Linked DNA regions of Homo sapiens. The protein of the gene in region 5 purifies or fractionates together with the protein of the main gene of each other region. This does not show direct contact. Each region holds a gene or a part of one and is shown on either strand. Other genes may lie near its edges. The genes, in order: CD226, ITGB5, ZBTB18, CSNK1G3, EDIL3 and HADHB.

What was found.
Region 1: the proteins of EDIL3 (region 5) and CD226 purify together in Homo sapiens (co-immunoprecipitation; one large-scale study listed by IntAct). This does not show direct contact.
Region 2: the proteins of EDIL3 (region 5) and ITGB5 purify together in Homo sapiens (affinity purification with mass spectrometry; 3 studies listed by BioGRID and IntAct, with this or other methods). This does not show direct contact.
Region 3: the proteins of EDIL3 (region 5) and ZBTB18 purify together in Homo sapiens (co-immunoprecipitation; one large-scale study listed by IntAct). This does not show direct contact.
Region 4: the proteins of EDIL3 (region 5) and CSNK1G3 purify together in Homo sapiens (affinity purification with mass spectrometry; one large-scale study listed by BioGRID and IntAct). This does not show direct contact.
Region 6: the proteins of EDIL3 (region 5) and HADHB fractionate together in Homo sapiens (co-fractionation; one large-scale study listed by BioGRID). This does not show direct contact.

The regions. Positions count from the first base shown.
Region 1 is NC_000018.10:69,944,675-69,949,218, forward strand, and holds the start of CD226 (CD226 antigen isoform a precursor), read right to left. Parts: upstream 3,200-4,544; 5' UTR 2,733-3,199; coding exon 2,687-2,732; intron 2,396-2,686; coding exon 2,060-2,395; intron 1-2,059.
Region 2 is NC_000003.12:124,792,972-124,797,022, reverse strand, and holds part of ITGB5 (integrin beta-5 isoform a precursor), read left to right. Parts: intron 1-205; coding exon 206-635; intron 636-647; exon of another isoform or gene 648-3,102; intron 3,103-3,750; exon of another isoform or gene 3,751-4,051.
Region 3 is NC_000001.11:244,054,283-244,058,527, forward strand, and holds the end of ZBTB18 (zinc finger and BTB domain-containing protein 18), read left to right. Parts: coding exon 1-1,088; 3' UTR 1,089-3,194; downstream 3,195-4,245.
Region 4 is NC_000005.10:123,615,363-123,618,100, forward strand, and holds the end of CSNK1G3 (casein kinase I isoform gamma-3), read left to right. Parts: 3' UTR 1-1,687; downstream 1,688-2,738. UniProt on the Homo sapiens protein: Serine/threonine-protein kinase. Casein kinases are operationally defined by their preferential utilization of acidic proteins such as caseins as substrates. It can phosphorylate a large number of proteins. Participates in Wnt signaling.
Region 5 is NC_000005.10:84,374,608-84,378,658, reverse strand, and holds part of EDIL3 (EGF-like repeat and discoidin I-like domain-containing protein 3 isoform 1 precursor), read left to right. Parts: intron 1-4,051. UniProt on the Homo sapiens protein: Promotes adhesion of endothelial cells through interaction with the alpha-v/beta-3 integrin receptor. Inhibits formation of vascular-like structures. May be involved in regulation of vascular morphogenesis of remodeling in embryonic development.
Region 6 is NC_000002.12:26,250,888-26,254,938, forward strand, and holds part of HADHB (trifunctional enzyme subunit beta, mitochondrial isoform 1 precursor), read left to right. Parts: intron 1-3,359; 5' UTR 3,360-3,367; coding exon 3,368-3,431; intron 3,432-3,542; coding exon 3,543-3,587; intron 3,588-4,051. UniProt on the Homo sapiens protein: Mitochondrial trifunctional enzyme catalyzes the last three of the four reactions of the mitochondrial beta-oxidation pathway.

The DNA.
Region 1 (4,544 bases), on a different chromosome or scaffold from region 5:
TTGTTTCCAATGGCTCAGTCTATGTTAAAAGCTTTGCCAATCTTCTACTTCGCCTGCCTGACTGATTTATAGCAAACTACACAGTAAAAACTTCCAAGCAGGATTTAACAGGTGTCTACATACAACAGCAAATGAGGACTTGTATGGTGAAACAGAGTCTTTAATAAATAAACATTTAACTAAAGAAACATTGTAAATTGACACTCTATAAGCCTCAGCTATATACACAAAATTAGTCTTCACCCTAGCTACACCTAAAGAGAAAGGGAAAACTAAATATATGAAGATGTTTCTTATCTCCTGACCATTTGATATTCCTCATATAATTCTGTACTTGTTCTTTTAGAGCACAGATCCCTTAAAAATAAAGCACTATTATGTCAGATGTCATAAAATGTTCTTCTCTGTACAGCCATGAGTATAATTTGAGAGACACCACACAAGAAACACACAGTTCCAAAAATATTCCCTGCTTTAGATTGTCACTAATATCTGAAAATTTCATTATTAGTCCTTTTGGATCACAAGCATAGGAAATAATAAGATGTATCATTCTCTGACTACCATGGACCAAGTTCTTTAAATATATCGTCCCTCAGCCATTCAACAAGTAGAATGGCACTACCAACCCCATTTCCTCTTCAGGAACCTGAGATTCAGAGGGATCGAGCAACTAACACCAGGTTGATGGAAAGTGATGACTATAAACCCAAGTGTTTCCAATATACTACAACCAGTTCATGTAGTCATCACTAGAAAGACAAAACCACAATCTCTGGTAGATAAAGCAAAAAACACTCCAAGGGATCATTGGGTTCTTTCTGACACCACAGCTCACAATTTATGAAGAAAGTGTCCTCTCTAGCTAAACCTGGATGAGGTGAAAGATAGAGCCAGGGCCAAGCTTGGTGGTTCATGCCAGTAATCCTGGCACTCTGGGAGGCCGAGGCAGTTGGATCACTTGAACTCAGGAGTCCAAGACCAGCCTGGGCAACATGTTGAAACCTCATCTCTACAAAAAATACAACAATCAGCCTGGCATGGTGTATTAGTCCGTTTTCACCCTGCTGATGAAGATATTCCCAAGACTGGGCAATTTACAAAAGAAAGAGGTTTAATTGGACTTACAGCACCACATGTCTGGGGAAGCCTCACAATCAAGGTGGAAGGCAAGGAGAAGTCACGTCTTACATGGATGGCAGCAGGCAAACAGAGAGAGCTAGTGCAGGGGAACTCCTCTTTTTTAAACCATCAGATCTCATGAGACTTATGCACTATCATGAGGACAGCATGGGAAAGACTTGCCCGCACGATTCAATTACCTCCCACCAGGTCCCTCCCACAACACATGGGAATTCAAACCATATCACGTGGCGGTGCACACCTGTAGTCCCAGCTACTTGCGGGGCTGAGGTAGGAGAATCGCTTGAGCCCAGGAGCTGGAGGTTGCAGTGAGCCAAGATCATGCTACTGTACTCCAGCCTGGTGACAGAGCAAGACTCCATCAAAAAAAAAAAAAAAAAAAAAAAAAAAAGAAGGAAGAAGAAAGAAAGACAGGAAAGAAAGGAAAGAAAAGAAAGAAAGAGAGAGAGAGAAAGAAAGAAAGAGAAAAAGAAAGAAAGAAAACAAACTTAGATTTGGTACTGTAGGAAGAACCTTGAACACACAGGGGTTGATGTGGGTGCTGGAGTGTCCAGCAGAAGGGAATGGTGCTATGTCACTGTGATAAAACCCTGAAAGGATCCTGAACCCATGTGTTGCCAACATCAGTTTAATCAAGGCTCAGGTTATCATTAAGACAACAAAAAACCTGTGCTTTCTTCTACTACATTCAAATTTGAAAGGCACTTCTACTCGGACACAACAGCACAGTCAGAAAAATGAAACAGACTCCCAAGATTGCTCCTTCAAAGCAGTAACATCAAAGCATCTAGAAATGGAATTGGAGAATGCCACAGAAATACGAGAAGACATTCTATAGCTTCTACTTGGGCTTTATAGAAATAAATGTTGTAAGTGGATAAAAAGGGATTTAAAAAAAAAAAAAACTTGCCCTTACCTGACTGAACCACCTGTATCACCTTCTGCCAAGTTCCCTGTGGGTAAGTGTAAAGAGAGCAGGAATAGTAGCCAACATCATCTTCAGAGGCATTCCGAAAGAAAAGAGTCATGTTATTGGAAGCCATCGTTGAATTCAAAAAGTAAACCCTCTCAGCATAGGGCTTCCTTATGACCATGCCATGAGTAGGGCTGAAAATGGCTATGGAATCCTGCTGGGTCCCGATCTTGAACCACTCCACCTGTGTTAAGATGCCCATTGATGGATACACACATTCTAGAGACATGTTCTCGGCAAAGGGAACTGATGTATGCCAAAGCACCTCTTCACATAGAGCTGAAATATACAACATCACATTAATTGTTAGCCTTGATGATGGAAACACCAAATCAATATCTTAAGCTTTTGAAGACCTAGTGCATTGAGATCACAGTAAAGGCTGACAGTTTCTGCCTTTGTCTAAAAAGGCGTCCTGCTGATAATTGGAAAATGTAACTTTTAGTTTTTCTGAACAAGTGAGAAATTATCCTAGCCAACTAAAGAGCACTGTAAATTCTGAATATGCCACACTGTACAAACAAAAACAGGAGCAAAACTTTTAAATGAAAATATAAAGATCATCTTTACCTCTGTATACATGAAGAAGAGCCAAAAGTAAAGTAGGATAATCCATCTCTGGAAACTGTTTGAAAGGCTGGTTCTATTAAAAAAAAAAATTGCTTTTTATAATGTGACATGCAGATCCCCAGCACAATGCAGTTTCCTTCCTCTCAGATGTTATCAGTCGTGTCTTCTTTTTCTGAAGTATGAACACAGGAAAAAGGCCTTAGCTTAAAAGACAGGTTTGCTCCTTTATGAGGATGGGCAGATTTGAGTTTCTTCTCTCTCGGGGAACCAGTCGGCTTATTTTCGGGCTTTCATTTTCTACAAGGAGTCATTCATTCAACAAACATGTGCTGCATGCATTCTCTGTGCCTAACTCAGCTGTAGGCAATGAGGATACAATAATACAAAAAAAAAAAAATATTGCCATGATAGAACTTACATTCTATGTGGAGGAGGCAGAAACTAAAATAAAGATGTAAAAATATAAATAATAAGTGAAAGGTGGTGCATGCATGGAGCAGAGAAGTCCTCACTGAGAGCATAAGATGAGGCAGAGGCTGAAGTGGGCGGAGGGAGCCTACGCCCAGCGCTGACAGCCCATCCTGTGGCCTTCCTTTCACCTCTTCCTCCTTGCTGATCTCAGACATTTGCTTTGATGAGGACCAAAAAACAGATCAAAAGCCCATCAGATACAAAAGTATGCTGGCCCAGGGCATATGCAGATCTACCATTATGAGAGATTTAACTTCTGATTTTGAAATAATTATAGAGTCACAGTAAGTCACAAAGAGAGTACAGACAGGTCCCTGTCCCCAGGTTCTGTCAGGGGTCATATCTTACATAATTATAGTACAATATCAAAACAGGATTCATTTTTCAGGTTCATCATTGCTCTCTTCTTTCTCTTATAAAATACAAGTTCCAATTCTTAAGAACTTGTTAGGTACAAGTTCCAATTCTTAAGAACTTGTTAGGAACATATCAGCATGTTAGTATAAAAAGTATACCCCTACAAAAAGAGGAATTGTATAAATGCATTTGACCCTGGTAAGACTGTCAAAATAGAAGATGAGTAAAAATTGGGAAAAGTAGGAGCAGAAACCACTGAAGACAATTTTATCTAATGCCGACCCTGAACTTTGTTTGTGACTCAGTCTCAAAGTGTATCAGCAAGTGTCGACTACTCAGCATGAATATCTAATGTGGGAACTTTCTCAGGGAACATAAAATCAACAATGCAATGATAATCAGAACAAAATTGTAATGTGTACATATAATCAAGCATGGTGTCACCTTGTGTTTATATGGCATTATATTTTCTAAAAGTTTTCACATCTATGATATTATTTGTGCCTCTAGTTGTTTTGTGATGTAGTCAAAAGAGGCATCTGTTATCTCTGTTTTGTAAATAAGTCAACCCAACAATTCCTCCAAATTGTACTGAGTTATGCTGGGTCCTCTGCTTAGTCCCTTGGAAATACAATCATAAAGAGGACACATCTCTGCTCTCAGGTTATGCATAATATAGTGGGTCATATTAATTTTAAAAGCAATTTATTGTAGCAAAACATGATCATCTCTATACAAGTCATTTGCTAAGTTTTATGAAAGCCAGAGAGAACAAATCATTCTAATAGATTGTGGAAAAGGTTTTATAGAAAAAGTGGGGGGAAAACAGAGGCGTGACAATGCGGGTGTTTCAGGAAATGGTGTGACTACAGTCTAGTGGGTGGGGAAGTGACCGAAAATGAGACTGAGTCTGGACTGAAAAGTGACCTGAGTGACACACATAAAGGAACTGAAACGTAGCAATCAGAAACCGCGGCGTCATGCTAACTTCTGTAACTCCAGCACCCAGCACAATTCCTCAGGCAAAGCA
Region 2 (4,051 bases), on a different chromosome or scaffold from region 5:
TCACCTGTGCATTCTCTTCTCCATGAAGCATGGGAGCTTGCTGGTTCTGAGGTCTCTTCCTACTCCGGCCATCTTGGTGGTTCTACCTGAGTGCGTGGAGAGGGCTGGAGTTCGCAGCTGCTCTTCATCAAGGGCCCTGCCCCTGGGTGAATGGGAGACCCTGGCTTGCCGCAGCCATGATATCCCTTCTCTTCCTTCTGCCCAGGCATCTTTTGAAGTATCATTGGAGGCCCGAAGCTGTCCCAGCAGACACACGGAGCATGTGTTTGCCCTGCGGCCGGTGGGATTCCGGGACAGCCTGGAGGTGGGGGTCACCTACAACTGCACGTGCGGCTGCAGCGTGGGGCTGGAACCCAACAGCGCCAGGTGCAACGGGAGCGGGACCTATGTCTGCGGCCTGTGTGAGTGCAGCCCCGGCTACCTGGGCACCAGGTGCGAGTGCCAGGATGGGGAGAACCAGAGCGTGTACCAGAACCTGTGCCGGGAGGCAGAGGGCAAGCCACTGTGCAGCGGGCGTGGGGACTGCAGCTGCAACCAGTGCTCCTGCTTCGAGAGCGAGTTTGGCAAGATCTATGGGCCTTTCTGTGAGTGCGACAACTTCTCCTGTGCCAGGAACAAGGGAGTCCTCTGCTCAGGTAAGTGTCCCCAGCAAGCACTTTAGCTCTGAGCCAGGCCAAGATGCCGTTAGGACACCCTCCCAAAGCCTGCCTTTTACTCAGTGGTGGTAGAAAGTGTCACTACCATGGCTCTCCTTGGAGAAGACAGTGGGCAAGCCTTGCTACCCGTAGGCAGGAGGTGGGGATCTGTGTGCAGAATACGAAAGCAGAAGGTATTGCCATAAATTGTGGACTCTCAGAATTCGAGGGGCCTGCGTGGGTCATCCACCTTACTTCCCAATTCATGCAGGACTGGCCTGCACAGCATTCCTGACAGGTAGAGATGTTCAGCCTCTTCTTGATTGCCTCCTGGGACGGGGAACTCACTGGGGCTGGCAGTGGCCATCTGTCCCTTAGCCAATGAACTCATATCTTATTGCTGCTCCCATAACTCACCACAAACCTGTTGGCTTAAAATAATACACATTTAATCCATTACAGTTCTGGAGGCCAGAAGTCTGAAATGGATCTTATTTGGCTAGAATCAAGGTGCCAGCAGGGCTGCATACCTCCTAGAAGCTCCAGGGGAGAATCTGTGTCCCGGCCTTTTCCAGTTCCTAGAGGCCACCTGTATTCTTTGGCTTGCAGCTCCTTCTTCCATTTTCAAAACCAGCAGAGTAACATCCTCAGATCTCTCTGACTCTGACCTCTGCTTCTGTTGTCAAATCCTTCTCCCTCTCCTACAGACCCTTGTGGTTACAAGGGACCCTCAGTCGAACCCTGGAAAGTCTCCCCATCCCCAGGTCCTCAGCTTACTCACATCTGCACAGTCCCTTTCACCACGTAAGGCCACACAGTCACAGGTTCCAGGGATTAGGATGTGGACATCTCTGGGGGCTCTTATTTTTCCTGCCAGAATTCCTCTTTTTTTTTTTTCTGAGATGGAGTCTCACTCTGTTGCCCAGGCTGGAGTGCAATGGCAGGATCTCGACTCACTGCAACCTCTGCCTCCCAGGTTCAAGCAATTCTCCTGCCTCAGACTCCCGAGTAGCTGGGATTATAGGCGCCCGCCACCACACTCGGCTAATTTTTGTATTTTTAGTAGAGACGGGGTTTCACCATGTTGGCCAGGCTGGTCTTGAACTCGTGATCTCAAGTGATCCATCCACAGCCTCCCAAAGTACTGGGATTATAGACGTGAGCCACTGTGCCCGGCCCAGAATTCCTCTTTATACTGAAGAGAAACTTGTTTCTCAATAACTTCCTCCCAATGGTTAACATTCTAGAGTCCCCCTTCCACGTGACAACCTGTCAAACATCTAAAAGCTGCTTTATGTTTCTCTGTTCTCTCTTCTGATCTAGGCTAGACACCCCAAGTCTCTTCCTTGTCCGAGGGTGCTATCATTTGTGAAGCATGCTTCACATAATCAAGTGCGTTACTTGTCATGCTGGATGATGAGGGCTTGGTCCAGGGTTCAGTGAAGCATGCGTTTCCTGTGATTTGGACATTCTGCTTACATGGATGCACCCTGACAATACATTCACCTTTTTTTATTTTCTTCTTCTTCTTCTCCTTCTCCTCCTCCTTCTCCTCCCTTCTCCCTTCCTCTCTCTCTCTCTTTCTTTCTTGTTTCTTTTTTTTTTTGAGATGAAGTCTCGCTCTGTTGCCTAGGCTGGAGTGCAGTGGCACAATCTCAGCTCACTGCAACCTGTGCCTCCTGGGTTCAAGTGATTCTCCTGTCTCAGCCTCCTGACTGGCTGGGATTACAAGCACCCACCACCACGCCTGGCAAATTTTTTTTTTTTTAAATAGATATGGGGTTTCCCCATGTTGGCCAGGCTGGTCTCGAAGTCCTGACCTCAGGTGATCCACCCACCTCAGCCTCCCAATGTGCTGGGATTACAGGTGTGAGCCACTGCGCCCAGCCCACCTTTTCGTTCTGTTAAACAGTCACAGTATACTCTTGAGCTGGTTTTTAACTTCACTACCAAAAGTTTGAGGCTTTTAATTTATTTTATTTTTTAGAACTGTGGTTCAGAAGGAGAGGTACTTTTTTAGTGTGTTGTGTTGGAGCCCTTAATTTTCTGAATCTAAACACAGGAGTTTACACTGATTCCAGTTAAATGACAAGTTGGCAGTTCCCACTCTGGTATTGCGTTCTGATTAAATGCTTCAAAATTGTATCTCAAAGTTTATCTAACACCATGCCACCTGTAAAGGTAGTAAGTAAAACAGTTTTAGGCAGGGCTGTGGTTTCTTCTACACATCATGTATTCTGTGGTTTCCAGGGCTCCCTCCTTAAGAATGGTCTTCCAATTGGGATGGGTGGATTTGAAAGGAACTAAGGGATCAGCTGGGAAAGAAAGCACAAGGTGCATCTGAAGCAAACCAGGAACGTGCAGATACTCCGTCCTATGGGAGGAGGAATTGTACTGCCACACAGGGTTGCACAGACGTGGGTTAACAAGGGAAGCTTCCTGGAGCGGACCTTGCCGTGACACAAGCGTGAGTACACCCATGGGCGTCGTGGGACCAGCATGTCTAAAACTGGAGTTGCCCTGGAGAGTGCAGGACTTAGCAGTGTCATTGCAGAGTAAAGTAGGTGGAAAAATCAGGATTCAACATGCCAAGCATGCAACAGGGATCAACGCTTTCCTCAGCAGAGTGATGATAGGTTGGTGTTAGCTAGATGGTTCTGTCTGGTTAGTAGAAAAAGTTTGGGCTCCATAGCAGGAGGCCTGGGCCTAAGTCCCATCATACCATATCTGCTAGTGTGACTTGGGCATAGAGTTGTTATGAGGAATAAGAGATGTGTGTGAAGCACCCAGTATTTTGCCTGGCACAAAAGGAAAACACACCCAATGCTGGCTCCTCTATGAGTCAGTGCCACACCCCTCTGGGGGGGCCACACCTGGTTCCCCATGTGCAGGAGGGCCCCGCCTTCCCCCAGACAGTCCCCAGGCTTTGCCTAAAAAATTCCAGGGTGGTGGAATGGAGTTTCCATTCCTCTTAGTAGCCATAATAAAAGCTCTAAGCAGCCTGGCAGGCTTTTTAGCAGTTTTTCTTTTAAAGAGATATTAGCAAACGTGACAGAACCATCCCTCCTTCCCCTTCAGGATCCTGAAATAACCCTCTGGTATGTCTTCACCCTAGAAGCCTGCGTGTGTCCATGCAGCCTGGGAGCAAGGGCGTTTGAGTCAGATGCTGTGTGCACGTTTCATCTCCACAGTTCATCAGGCTGTGACCTTGGTTGTCTTGGACTTTGGCTTTTCCTGTCTCCTAAGATGGGCCAACACCATTTGTTTCTGCATTATTTTGAGAATTGAAGGAGAAGACAGAGATGAAGGCCCTGGCCTGGTACTCGGTAGGGAACAGGACCCAGTGGATGTTAGATGCCTCCTCTGTCTTGCTGAGACTGGGCATTTCTCTGAGTACAGAGCCTGGGAGACAGGGC
Region 3 (4,245 bases), on a different chromosome or scaffold from region 5:
AAGGAGAAGATGAAAAATTGAACATCCTGCCCAGCAAAAGGGACTTGGCGGCCGAGCCTGGGAACATGTGGATGCGATTGCCCTCAGACTCAGCAGGCATCCCCCAGGCTGGCGGAGAGGCAGAGCCACACGCCACAGCAGCTGGAAAAACAGTAGCCAGCCCCTGCAGCTCAACAGAGTCTTTGTCCCAGAGGTCTGTCACCTCCGTGAGGGATTCGGCAGATGTTGACTGTGTGCTGGACCTGTCTGTCAAGTCCAGCCTTTCAGGAGTTGAAAATCTGAACAGCTCTTATTTCTCTTCACAGGACGTGCTGAGAAGCAACCTGGTGCAGGTGAAGGTGGAGAAAGAGGCTTCCTGTGATGAGAGTGATGTTGGCACTAATGACTATGACATGGAACATAGCACTGTGAAAGAAAGTGTGAGCACTAATAACAGGGTACAGTATGAGCCGGCCCATCTGGCTCCCCTGAGGGAGGACTCGGTCTTGAGGGAGCTGGACCGGGAGGACAAAGCCAGTGATGATGAGATGATGACCCCAGAGAGCGAGCGTGTCCAGGTGGAGGGAGGCATGGAGAGCAGTCTGCTCCCCTACGTCTCCAACATCCTGAGCCCCGCGGGCCAGATCTTCATGTGCCCCCTGTGCAACAAGGTCTTCCCCAGCCCCCACATCCTGCAGATCCACCTGAGCACGCACTTCCGCGAGCAGGACGGCATCCGCAGCAAGCCCGCCGCCGATGTCAACGTGCCCACGTGCTCGCTGTGTGGGAAGACTTTCTCTTGCATGTACACCCTCAAGCGCCACGAGAGGACTCACTCGGGGGAGAAGCCCTACACATGCACCCAGTGCGGCAAGAGCTTCCAGTACTCGCACAACCTGAGCCGCCATGCCGTGGTGCACACCCGCGAGAAGCCGCACGCCTGCAAGTGGTGCGAGCGCAGGTTCACGCAGTCCGGGGACCTGTACAGACACATTCGCAAGTTCCACTGTGAGTTGGTGAACTCCTTGTCGGTCAAAAGCGAAGCACTGAGCTTGCCTACTGTCAGAGACTGGACCTTAGAAGATAGCTCTCAAGAACTTTGGAAATAATTTTATATATATATAAATAATATATATATATATACATATATATAAATAGATCTCTATATAGTTGTGGTACGGTCTAAAAGCAGTCTTGTTTCCTGGAAATAAAAAGTTGGGATATTAACTTGTTTTTGCACTTTAGAATAGCATGAGAATCTCACTAATTTAGCATTCTGATAAAAGAAACTTTAGAGCAAGTCAGAATAGAGAGGTGTTTTTCCTTTGAGGGGATAGGGGAAGTAAGCCAATAAGAACCTTTTAAACAAATCGTCCTGTCACAAAATGCTTTCATATGGCTTAATTTTGTCAACACTGCATTGTCTTTTGAGCTCTTTTTTCCCCCCCAACAAAGTTTTTTTGTTTTTTGTTTTTTTTTTTAAGTAGAAATTCCCTCCAGTTTTATTAGCCTCTTTATATGTCTCAAATTGCATGAATTTTTTCTGGCTGTTGGAAACCTGAATGCTTTTAGACCCAAATGGAAAATTTCTGAAATGCTGGATTATCTATTTTTAAACAAGCAGTTGACTTAAAACTTTCTGTGGCAACTTCTGGTTTTCTGACAGTTCCCAGTGAGAGAAATGCTGAAAGTACACTGGGATCACTGGGACACTGTCTTATGAAGGTTTGCTTGGGATGAAAAAGGATATTGCAGCTTCAGCAGTGTTGAACTGTGTGTTTAAAAATGTGAATTACTGTTATTGTATACTGTAATTGATTACATGGGCTGGGGGGGTGTCAAAGAACTTGACAGGTTGTGTTGATGCTCTTAGTTGAGTCTTGAAAAGTAAATATTAACGCTACAGAAATGCATGAGTTTCAATATATTTTTTGTCTTTGTTTGCATTGTATAACTTTAACGAGTGAGTTTAAAATTATTTAATTTCCTTAGAAAAATAACACCATTTGGAAAAAAAAACTGGTGTTATGAAGAACGTAAATGCACTGTTTTTATTTTTATTTTATATAATTTAAATTGACTTTCCCACTGTCTTTAAGTTGAAACTGTTAAGCTGAATAAAAACTTAAGCTGCAAATTGATAACTTCGCTACATAACAAGGAAAATATAAATGTTTACAAACAGCTTAAAGATTTGCATGTGCAGTGTGCATTTATAACAAACTTCTAATTGCACAAAACCCATGCCAGCTCAGAGTTTAGGTGTACACATTTACCCAGTTGAGCGTTCTTAGAATAACTACTGCACAAGTTGACAATAGGTCGTTCTCTCTTTTTTTTTGTTTGCTCCCTTTTTCTTTTTCTCCCCTTCCTCCTTACCCTCCCTCCCTTACTCTCCCCCCCCACCACCACCCTCCACCCCCAACTCATGAAAAGATTCTATGGACTGAAAAAGCCCCAGGCTGAAAGGACTGGACTGCCTTGATTGACATGGGGAAGGGGGTTAGTAGACTATGTGGATTGCGGCAGCAGAGGCTGCAGCCTAACGTGTGGTTTTAATGACCAGCACGCAAGGCAAAAGCATTTTGCACAGTGTTTGTTTTCCTGTCTTGCACTTACAAATAAGGTCTATGGGAGTAGCATGGAAAACGTTTGCTGTTTTTCCCTTTTTTTTTTAATTGCTTTTGTTTAAAATTTGATCGCCTTAACTACTGTAAACATAGCCTATTTTTGTGCTTAAGATACTGAATGGAAAACTCCATTGTGTGTTGCTGGACTGTTTTGGAAATATTTGGTTAAATGTGTGTTAATTTGGCTGTAATGGCATTTAAAGCAAACAAACAAACAAAAAAAGCTGTGAAAATGGCCTTGGAGCATTATCTTTAGTTACTTGAAGAGTTTCTAGTTTTTTTAAAATACAGTTTATGTTAAAATAATTTTTATTAATTTAGAGAAGACAATCAATGTCTGTGAGAAAACGGACTTTCTTTTGGATTTTCTTTTTGTGGTCATTGTGAGTGATTGCTTTTTCCTTTTCTTAGTTTCACATTCTTCCTTTGTTCTAAAACTTAGACTGACATCTAGCTTTGACAATCATAGTATGTTTTATTTTCCTGAGGGGGAATAACTTATAATGCTGTTTAGTTTTGTACTATTGGTGTGTTGGTGAATTTTTAAACTGTGTGCTAACTGCAATAAATTATATGAACTGAGAATTTCTTGTGTGTATTTTTTATTGTGATTATGTAGTGTATAGATTCTAAATATGTATCATACCTGGCATCTTTAATATCAATTCTATTCGGAGTTTATGAAATTATTAGAATGCCTTAAATCACTCGAGTGGAAAATGTGTAAGCATTCTAGTCACTTAAGAAGATACTAAATGCACATTTAAAAAATGCGACCCATTTTCACAATCTACATCAAGAATGTTGAGGTAATTCCCTAGAAACTCATGAATCATGAAACTACGTGGCAGCATAGGTTGTTAAAAATACACTGTACAACTACTAATCCATATACCGTAAGTCACTTTTCGTGTGTAATTTTATCCTAAGTTGATCGGTCAAATCTATTCTCCTGTGTTCTGGTTTAAGTGGAAAATTGAAGGAGACCGGATGTTTTAATTTGGAAGACTGCTTGGCTAATGACTGGAATTCTAGGCAATTGAATTAGCAGGCATGCAATTGTTCACGATTAGCTATATACATCCTTTTTGTTGCTGGGAGAACTCGAAAGTTTCTAGGTTTTAATTCTCAAGTTTTAATTTAAACATGTAATTAAATACATGGACCATTAAAAGAACTCTGTTCCCTACTTTTTATGATTGTCCCAACTTCATGCTTATCTAGTTGGGTACATGTCAGGGTGAGAAACATTGCTGGTTGACCTGGGTAGGGAATTGACAGAACACTCACACATGCGGATGATACTGTAGAGGAATTGTCACAAACAACCCTAAGCTCAAGCAGTCAGGTGCAGGCATGGAGAGGTTTTGTAAACCGTGCTTGTCTCTAACTTCCAACCTTAAATAGAAATATGACTATGAAATTTTACATTATTACTGTCAAACTATGTTTATATTCAGTGGCCTATAGTAAGGTCAATATTTTTAACCTACAGAAGTGGGATATAAGGTCTGAAGTTTGAAAATGGACCATTTACCAACTACCTGGTGGCTTTGGATAGGAAGCCACAGGGATTTTGTCATGAAGTATAATAACATAATTTGGAATCCTAATTTCCATCCCCCTGCCTTTTTTT
Region 4 (2,738 bases), about 39 Mb from region 5:
GCCATGCAATGGTGTCTGTGTAATTATTTTGCTCTTTGATTAAAAAAAAGACCCCCAGCAATAAAAAGTGGGTCACTCTATGCCCTCTGTGCACATTAGTCTCTTGTATTCAACTTTGCTGATTCTCTGGAATTTTCCTACTCTTTAGCATAATTTTGATGATTGAAAAATATTTTGGAAAGGATGGGTCAGGTGCTTTGCCTCCATAGTCTTTTGAAGTGCCTGCATATGAACAACAACAACAACAACAAAAAATTCTGTAAAAAAGGAAGCCCATTCCACTTTTCAAGTATGCTTTGTTTTAAGCCATAAAGACACACATGTAGTTTTGTCACATTCTACTAGCCAAAATTTTCAAGAAGGGTTAAAACAAAGACTGGCTAGAAAGATAATTATTTTGAATAAATCTCATATTCATCTTTCATTTATATAATTGTTACTTATTCCTCCCATGCAGTCTCTTCGTTGTCTTTAAGTGTGTGCCTCCAGGCATGCTTATTTATTTTTATTGTCTCAAGGTAACATTTAAGATGTATATTAAAGTAAAGCTACATTTTTTTACTTCATTATTGCATTTACAGGGATTTAATTGTACTTTGTAATTTATTTTTCTTATTAGCCAAAAGTTTAATGCATTTTTTTTTGATGAATTAGGCACCCACATGAACACCACAAATCAGGACATTGTTTATCATTGTTGCTATGAATCCTATGAATGATCTTTTTTTTATTTTAAAGACCTACACTTAACCTACAAAACATTTGCTGTATAATTTGGTCAACAGTTTCTATCTATCTGTATACTGTCATGATGTCTTAAACTGCAGGAGTTACATACTGAGTTTATATTTTTATTTGCTTTGAGCAAGGTAGATAAACATTTTGGCCATTATAATGTGAAACCACTTCTTCTTTCTTTACAGTATTTGACCAAACTTGTGTGTCTATGATATTTGTAAATACATGCGAATATCTGTATTTCTTATCATAAGCCTATTTAGTTTTATTCTCAGTAGGGTTTTTTGGATTGTACAGTGTTTATATGATCTGAACTCCTTATACATAAGAAGGTGTGTATATTAATCCAATTATGGACTTAAAATATTTTAAAAGTATAAATACCCTTATTTGCTGCAAAGACCAGTGTGTAGGCATTTGCTTTTTAGCAATATTTTTAAGTGCTCCATTTTAATGCCGAGGAATAAGTCTTTTGGCAACACAAACTGGTCAATAATAGGTAATGCAGGTATGTTCAGGTTAAGCCAACAATGTTTTGCATTTTTATGCTTATTTTCTGTCAACACTAATGAAGTCAACATTGCCTGAATGTCTGAATAATGAAACACATCCCTGTTTAAAAGTATGTAACTGAAAAAGAAATAAAAAAAAATAAAAGTAGTTTTTTTAAACTTGCTCTTTCCCATTTCCTCTAAAGATGGGTAAAATAATGTCACTCCCTAATTTAAGATAGGAATTATAAAAATTTGGTTTATTTAGTCTGTTATATATGAGAAGCAGAGCTAAAGGAATATGCTTTTGTTATTTTATGTTTTGTTTTGCTTTCTTGAAATCCAGTGGTAAAAAGCACACACTAGGAAGGATCTAAGCTTTCTTTAATATAAAAAAAATTATACTTCTCTGAACTGTTTAATAGAGCAATAATTAAATACATCTTCTGATAAATTAAGGGAAATAGCATCATTTTTCCTTTTTGAGAATGGAATCATACTATTATGTTCACAGAAATTAAGCATTATTCCAGTTTTAAGTGAATGACTTTAAAATCATTGTAGATGGGGAGCCCATATTTCTAACAGTATCTCATAGTTCATCATTGTGCTAGGTGCTTTAAGGGATTTTACAAAATGGCATTAATGGTACGCTACTTACTGAGGGATGCTACAGGTAAGAAAAGGCAAAGCAGCCCTCTCTCACCCTGTGAATATTGTGTCCATTAAGCAGCAGAGACCTTCAGAAGCAGGAGAAAGATCTGGAGATGACACAAAACTGTTAAAGGCTCTATTTAGAAAAATTCGACTTTAAGATTGGGATTTCAGTCTGAATGAATGTATAGTTGCATTAGTCAGAACTCTTTGAATTGAAAGTGACAGAATTTAACCTGGCTTGAGCAATAAGAGTGTACATTATTTCATTTAACTGAAAAGTTCAGTGGTAGGACTGCCTTCAGACATGCTTAATCCTGGAGTTAAGACAGGAATCTTCTCCATATCTTTTGGTTTTGCTTTCCTACCCTGCTGTTTTCACTGTCAGGAAGACTTTCCATGTGTCATGGTAAAGTGGTCATCCAGCAGCTTGAGACTTCTACCCTACCATCTTAGTAGTCTCAGCAAAAACAAAGGGCCATTTTTCTCAATATTTCCAACAGAAGCTTAAGACTGACATTCCCTTATTGGTTGATGTGCCCACCCCTGAGCCAATTACTATGGACAAGGGAATATTGTTCTCCCAGTAGCTGAGCCTGAGTCATGGTTTGACCTTGAGGAGACACAATGGTGATGGAACTGGTTGAGAAGAGTTAAAAACTTTTTTTTCTACTAGAGTGCAAATAGAATTATAAAGATTTGCTGATATTCAGGATAACTAATTTCTTCTCTGCCCAATTCTAATACAGACCCACATAAATTATTTTCTTAGGACATTTACTTGTTCATAAGACTACATGGATCATAACCAAAGAAAGGACTATATATAGAAGAATGATCAGGTAATATTATTGG
Region 5 (4,051 bases):
GGATAAAGAATCAGAAACTTCTGACCACAAAAATAGATGTCATAGTTAGGTCTTAGATCATGTATCATAGAAAAGCTTATTTCTCTTGGCTTTCAAGTTTCTGGGTCCTCTATAAACTGAATCCAGAAAGTGAAAAGCATATGAAGTAATAGGTCAGGCTTAATCAGAGCAGTAAAACATGCCAACTTTTAGACAAAGAGGAGACTCGAATAGTATATGTAAAAGCAGTGATACTTTGCAGTACAAAAAACTGGGTACATGCAGTTGGGAGGGTTTGGGGTGGGGAGTGGTAAGTGTATCACCATATAAGAGAATGCAATAACTGGTGATAATGCTGGTTTTGCGACCTAGAGAAAGCCTCACTGCAAGATGTTCAACATTTTTTGGGTGCAAATGCAGTGAAATGTATACATTATTTAAAAAAAGACTTGGTCAAAAATGTTTAAGCTTGAAAACCTGCTTAATGGTGAAATAGCTAGATATCTGAACAATGTACTTATTTAAGACTTTTCCCGTTGTGTCAAATAAAATGTTGGTATTTTAAAATTATTTTTCTTCTAAGGTAATAAAGTTTTAGAAGACACAAAACTGAATTTTGTAAAAAAGAAGTAGACCTTACAATGTAGATAAAATGTCCTGCAATTATTTGGTTATATTTTAGAAAATGTGCTGCTATTTTGTTTTAAAATATGCATTATTATAGTGATAGTAACTGTGTAGGAATTGTTCAGATTTATAGTGTGTGACTTAGAATGGAGGATTTAAGTACAAGAATTTAGGTGACGGCTTTTTAAGCACTAAAGCACTTTTGAATGTGGTTGTTACTATGGAGAAAGAAGATTGACTTAGCTTTGCCTTTTATCTTTTCCAAAACAGGTTTGTATCAAAATGATTGATCTCTTAAAATAATTTAATATGATATAATATTTCATAAATGGGAAGACCAAGGTTTTAATCTCTTGTTAGATGATATATGCTTGATTTGAAGATGATAATCTCTAAATGGGGTTAGGCCACCATGCATTCCTTAAGGTTTGTGCTTGGTATTTAACAAAGTGGTATATTTTGGGAATGCAAAATAATCCTTTAAATCCCCTCTTGTATTTTAGGTCAGGGGAACCATTTAGATTTTACTGATTCTGGGGATTATTTGAGGTCAGCCAGGATGAAATGGGCTCATGACACAATCAGGAAAGTCCAAAACAATTGAGTGGAAACATTGGAGAATATTTTTTATTTGAAATAAATGGACAGATCCCTCTCTGTAATGTAGAGCAGTCTCCCACCTACAGGCCTGAGCCTTAGGTCTGTGCTCACATCTCTGCTTCACTCTTTTTTTTTTTTTTTTTTTGAGACGGAGTCTCGCTACCCAGGCTGCAGTGCAGTGGCGCGATCTCAACTCACTGCAAGCTCCGCCTCCCGGGTTCACACCATTCTCCTGCCTCAGCCTCCTGAATAGCTGGGACTACAGGCTCGGCTAATTTTTCTGTATTTTTAGTAGAGACGGGGTTTCACCGTGTTAGCCAGGGTGGTCTCAATCTCCTGACCTCGTGATCCACCCGCCTTGGCCTCCCAAAGTGCTGGGATTACAGGCGTGAGCCACCGCGCCCGGCCTCTGCTGCACTCTTTATCACATTTTCTTTCCAAATACTATATGAACTTTAATTTTAACTATGCTATTTTTTCTGTTTATTTATCTTTCTATAGTTTAACTTCTGTATTATAAACGCTAACTTTTCTGGAATGTTGTTTACAGACAAACAAAAACCAAATTACCATTCGCAGTGCTTTAATGTTTATATACCAAGTTCTTGTTTCATGTTTTGTGCTTTCTACTGAGCTAGGGCTTAGAATAGTACCAGGCAAAACAAACAAGAAGACCCAAACAGACACTTAATATATACTGAATTGAATGTAGCTACCCACCCCCATCAGTTTGCCTGTAAACGTACTTGCACATTTTAAACAGCAGTGTGTCTCTTATATATAAAAATAGGTCAAAGTAGTTTCAGGAACTTTAAAAGCTGTGTTTTTCACTTTCTTACATAACTATTCCTTATAATGTGTGTTGTAGAATGAGCCTACTTTGAAAATATTTCTCAACACTCCTGCAAGAGCACTGTTGATAATATAATATTCAAGTGCAGGCAGGATATAAAGTACTTAACTGTGTTTGTTATGAACCTTCAATTAAAAGAAAAGCTGCTTCTAAGTGATTTTTCCCTTTTTTAGGTGCAAGGTTCTGACATTTCTGACTAAATTTGATTTTGGCCTAGAAACAGTAATTTTTCAGGCATCATTTTGTGTTTTTATTTTTTTTGCTTTCTTTTCATTACTTAGGGACCACCATCATGTCAGCATTAAGAGTCTTAGATAAGTTAACAAGGTACATTCTTTCTAATATCTTTCAAGTCTAACATGTATTGACTGCATACTATGTGTTCCACTGTTCTAATTATCATCTTTAATTCTCAAAACTATTGAGGCAGGTGCTATTATTATTGAAATATAAATGAGAAAATGGAGATATAGAGATCATAGAGCTACTAAGTAGCATGTTAAAATTAGGATCTAGAGCTTGTCCTCTTAACTATTAGGCGATGCTCTGTCTCAGTGAGTGACACATCTTGTATATCATGGAGATATTTTGTTAAATGATTTTATTATTTGTAAAACACACATTATGTCTAACCATTATTTCACTAGTAATTATTTTAGAAGGATTAAATTATACTTATTCTCTTGGGACAATAATTTAAAAATTTCAAATTTAGGTTGGTAAAGTGTAAAGTTCTTTTTTCACATTCAGAAATAAAAGAGTATGCTCATTCATTTGGTCAGAAAGTGTTAATGTGTTAGAATGCATCACTGGTAAGAAGATGAGCACTTGGGAAGTGGTTTGAAATACATTTTCTTTAAATCTTGCCATTTAGTTTGATTTCAGCACAATTTTTTGATTTATTTTAATTTTCTAGGATTTCATTGCTCCTCTACATTGTTTCATTGCTATTCAATGTGATGTGTAGAAGCATGCTTTCTCTGTAATTTTCAGATACATCAGGTAGTACAAAGTGACTTTAGAGGTTAACAAGGTTTTTATTTCTCCTAGTGTAATGAAGATATTTAATTTGCCTTACATCTCATCCTCATTTAATTTTATTTCCACATAACCCCATTAAGAAGTTTTAGCCAAACAAAAGCACCAAATAATCTCAAACCACATCAATTAGAATATTTTTTTTTCTGGTTTATGTGAAGAATTATTCAACCAAAATATGGTTTATTTTTTTAAAAAAACTTCAAACTGCAATCATTTTAAGTATTTTACAAAACAATGAGAATTATGCTGTATTATTCCATTTTCACACTGCTATAAAGAAATACTCGAAGGCTGGGCGCAGTGGCACATGCCTGTAATCCCAGCACTTTGGGAGACTGAAGTGGGCGGGTCACGAGGTCAAGAGATCGAGACCATCCTGGCCAACATGATGAAACCCTTTCTCTACTAAAAATACAAAAAATAGCTGGGCGTGGTGGTGTGTGCCTGTAGTCCCAGCTACTCAGGAGGCTGAGGCAGCAGAATTGCTTGAACCTGGGAGGCAGAAGTTGCAGTGAGCCGAGATCATGCCATTGCACTTCAGCTTGGTGACAGAGAGAGACTCCGTCTGAAAAAAAGAAAAAAAAAAAAAAGAAATACCCGAGACTGGGTAATTTATAAAGGAAGGAGGTTTAATTTAATTGACTCACAGTTCCACATGGCTGGAGAGGCCTCAGGAATTTACAATCATGGTGGAAGCCGAAGGGGAAGCAAGGACCTTCTTCACGTGGCAGCAAGAGAGGGAATAGGGAAGGAGGAACTTCCAAACACTTATAAAACCATCTAATCTCCTGAGAACTTACTCACTATTCAAGAACAACACAGGGGAAACCACCTCCATGATTCAGTCACCTCCCTCCTTGGACACTTGGGGATTACAGGTCCCTCCCTCAACACATGGGGATTGCAATTTGGGATAATATTTGGGTGGGGACCCAGAGCCAAACCATATCA
Region 6 (4,051 bases), on a different chromosome or scaffold from region 5:
TAGTTAGAATATATATATTTAAAATATATACATTTAAATATTTAATCTGTCTGGCATTTATTTGTGCTTTCGCTGTGAGCTGCGAACCTAAAATTTTTTCCAAATGTTTAGCCATTTTCCCAGTGAATTCATGGAATAATTTCTTTCTCTCAGCTAACTCAAGTGTTATATTTATTATACACTAAATTCTTACATACATGGGTCTGCTTCTGAACTGCTACATCCTGTTTTGTTGATCAGTGTCGTTTATTCCTGTGCTAAAGCTGCTCTGTTTTAATTATTGGTTCTTTCTAGAAAGTGTTTTGTTTGTTTTTTTTTGAGACAGGATCTTACTCTGTTGCCCAGGCTTGAGTACAGTAGCGTGATCATGGCTCACTGCAGCCTCGAACTCCTGGCTCGGGTGCTCCTCCCACCTCAGCCTCTTGAGTAGCTGCGACTACAGGCACATGCCACCATGCCCAGCTAGTTTTTTGTATTTTTTGTAAAGACAGGGTCTCACTAGGTTGCCCAGGCTGGTCTCAAACTCCTGGGCTCAAGTGATCCTCCCACCTCGGCCTCCCAAAGTGCTGGGATTACAGGTGTGAGCCTCTGTGCCTGGCCTAGAAAGTTTTGTTATCTGTTGCAACAAGGTTCCCCCTTTTGTTTTTCAACATTTTCTTGACAATTTTCATGAATTTTATTTCAAGATGAACCTTACGTAAGGGAACTTGTAGCCCAGACCCTTGTGGCATTGTAAGTAGCTTCTGAGTGGTGCCTCTCTCATGGGCCTCTTTGTGTTTCTCTGGCCAGAGTCCTTTGAATATCCCTAGGCTGGTGATCCTAAAGCTTGGGCTTCTCCATCTCTTTCCAATCCACATGTTTGGAACATGTTTTGTTTTTTTCTTTTCGGAAGCTATAGGACCTCCTTCTTTTAGTCTCTAAAGACCCAAGAGAAGTTAAACCTTAAAGCTTTTGTATTATCTATTTCTGTGTAGCCAATTACCGCCAAATGTAGCAGTTTAAAACAATACATGTTTACCATCTCATAGTTTCTGAAGGTCAGGAATCAAGGGCACTTTAGCTGGGTTGCTCTGAGTTTCCCATAAGGTGGCTGTCAGAATGTTGGCAGGGCTGGAGTCAGCTGAAAGCTTGCCTGCGCTAGAGGCTCCGCTTCCAAGCTCACTCACATGGCTGTTGGCAAGAGGCATCAGTTCCTCACCACAGGAGCCTCTTCATAAGGCTGCTCAGGACATGCCACCTGGCTTCTCTCATAGTGGGTGAGCTGAGAGAGAGACCACGACAGATGCTGCAGTATCTCTTATAGCCTATCTCAGAAGTGGCATACCATTACTTGTAACATACTTTTTGGTTTATACATTCTGTGATATGGAGAGGGAGGCAGCTAGACAAGGATGTGAATACCAAGAGGTAGAGATTATTGGGGGGCAACTTGGAGGCTGGCTACCAAAGTCTTTGTTGGTAAATCTTGTGGGATTTTTTTGGTTTTGATTTTTTGTTGTTGTTGTTAAAACATGCTTCAAAATTAAGAAATTATAAAAGGTGTGTGATGACAAGTCTTCCACCCCTGACCCCTAGTTACCCAGTTCCCTTTCTTCCAGCCAACAATTATTTTTAACATCTTTATTATACTTCCAGGGGGATTTTATACTGATACAAGGAAATGTACATAATATTTTTCCTCTTTTAACATGAATGATAGCATGCTGTACAGCTATTTTGCACCTTGCTTTCTTCACTTAATGATACAGCTTAAAATGGTTCCGAATTGGTGCATAATCATTTCCTTACCTTTTACAGCTGCATAGTATTTCACAGGGGTGTTGTAGCATGGTTTACTTACCCATTTTCCTATTTTTTGGTTATTCTAATTTTTGACTATTACAGTAACAATATGGATTATGTCCTGTGTGTGAGTAATATCCATGAAGTCAGTTCATGGAAGTGGAATTGCTGGTTCAAACATTAGTTTCAGTTATAGTTTTCATGGATAATTACCAAATTGCCCTCCCCATGGACTGTGCCAGTTCTCTTGGCAGCAGTATATGAGAATATCTATTTGCACATACTCTTACCTACACAGAGTATATATCAAACCTTTGAATCTTTGCTACTTTGAGAGACAATTATATCTGTGGTTTTAATTTGAATTCTTCTTATGAGTGAAATTGAACATCTTTTCATATACTTAAGAACCATTTGTATTTCCTTTTCTGTGGTCTGTTCATATTCTGTGCCTATTTGTCTGCTAGTGTTTTCCTTAGTAATCTGTAGGAACTCATTGTTAGAAATTTAGTCTTTTTTGGAGGGGTGGGGGAAAGTTGTTAATATATTTTACATATTTTTTAACATATAGGGTTATTATATGTTTTACTTTTTTATTGTTTTGAAACAATACAGTATCAAACTTTGAAAAAGTTGCAAGTGCAGTACTACAAACTTTTTTTAGTAGCAGTTGAGATTAAGTTGCTGACATGATGCTTCACCATCCCTATTTAGTGTATATTCCCTTCAGATACAAACATTCCACAAAGCCTTCTACATAATCATAGTACAGCCTTCAGAATCGTGAAACTAATACTAATGGTTTTATTATCACGCCTAGCAGTCTCTCTGCTTCTTTGACCCTAAAGGAGAGGAGCACACACTCTAGAGGTAGACTTCCTAGGTTCAAATTCCAGCTCTGGGCCTGGTGCGGTAGCTCACGCCTGTAATCCCAGCACTTTGGGAGGCCAAGGCGATGGATCACCTGAGGTCAGGAGTTCGACACCAGCCTGGCCAACATGGCAAAACCCCATGTCTACTAAAAATACAAAAAATTAGCCGGGTGTGGTGGCACGTGCCTGTAATCCCAGCTACTCGGGAGGCTGAGGCAGGAGAATCGACTGAACCTGGGAGGCAAAGATTGCAGTGAACCGAGATTGCACCACTGTACTCCAGCCTGGGCAACAAGAGCAAAACTCCATCTCAAAAAAATAAATAAATAAATAAATAAATAAATAAATAAATAAATAAATAAAAATTCCAGCTCTGCCACTCACTAGTTGTAGGTCTTTTGGCAAGTCACTCAATCCTACTATGCCTCAATTTCCTTATCTCTTACAAAGGATGTAATAATCATGCCTCCTTTGTAGGTCATTGTGAAGATTAGATGGTTAATGCTTAGAATAGTGGTTGCTGCAATGTGAAAACCATGTTGGTGTTCCTATCATAATAATATTATTAGATGAAGAATAGTTGATAAGATTAAGTTTTAATGTTTTCTAGTAGCCATGGATGAGGTTATCAGAGTTCATAGACTACAATGTAAACTACAAATTGTTCAGCTAATCCAGGATATACTTTTGTTCTTCTCTTTTTAGATTCCAGAATGACTATCTTGACTTACCCCTTTAAAAATCTTCCCACTGCATCAAAATGGGCCCTCAGATTTTGTAAGTTTATTATTATTTTTTTATTTTTAGAGATTGGATTTGGATTTATAAACATCTCGCACAGATACTGAATGGTATTGCTTTTTGTAAACAGTTTATTTTGTCTTCCAGCCATAAGACCTCTGAGCTGTTCCTCCCAGCTACGAGCTGCCCCAGGTACAGTAATTTGTAAAATAAATATTTCTGATTTAAATGTTAGATTCCAGATTCTATAGTTTGTGAACTCTGAATAAAAACCAAAACTAATTTGCTAATTCTCCCCTTTTTATGAGCACATGAACATCTCTGTTGCCTTCAAATTAAAAAATTATAGGTCCAATCAATAATGATACTACATTATTTAGGATTAGGCTTGAGGATGTTAATGGGAGGCTGTTTTCTGGGATTTGAACCTGCTGGAGTCATGGAGGTTCCATAAACCTCGTTGGTCAGTTTATTTATCCTCTTGCTGTCCGTCCTGGAGGTGAATGGCATACAAATGCTCTTGAGACCTGCTATGGAACCAAAAGTTAACTTTAAATTTGCAATTTGTGAAATGCTTCTCTATTGATGAATATCTTCTTCTCCCATGTGCAAGAGGGCCCATTCCTGAAATAGAAGTGATTAGGAACTAGTTAATA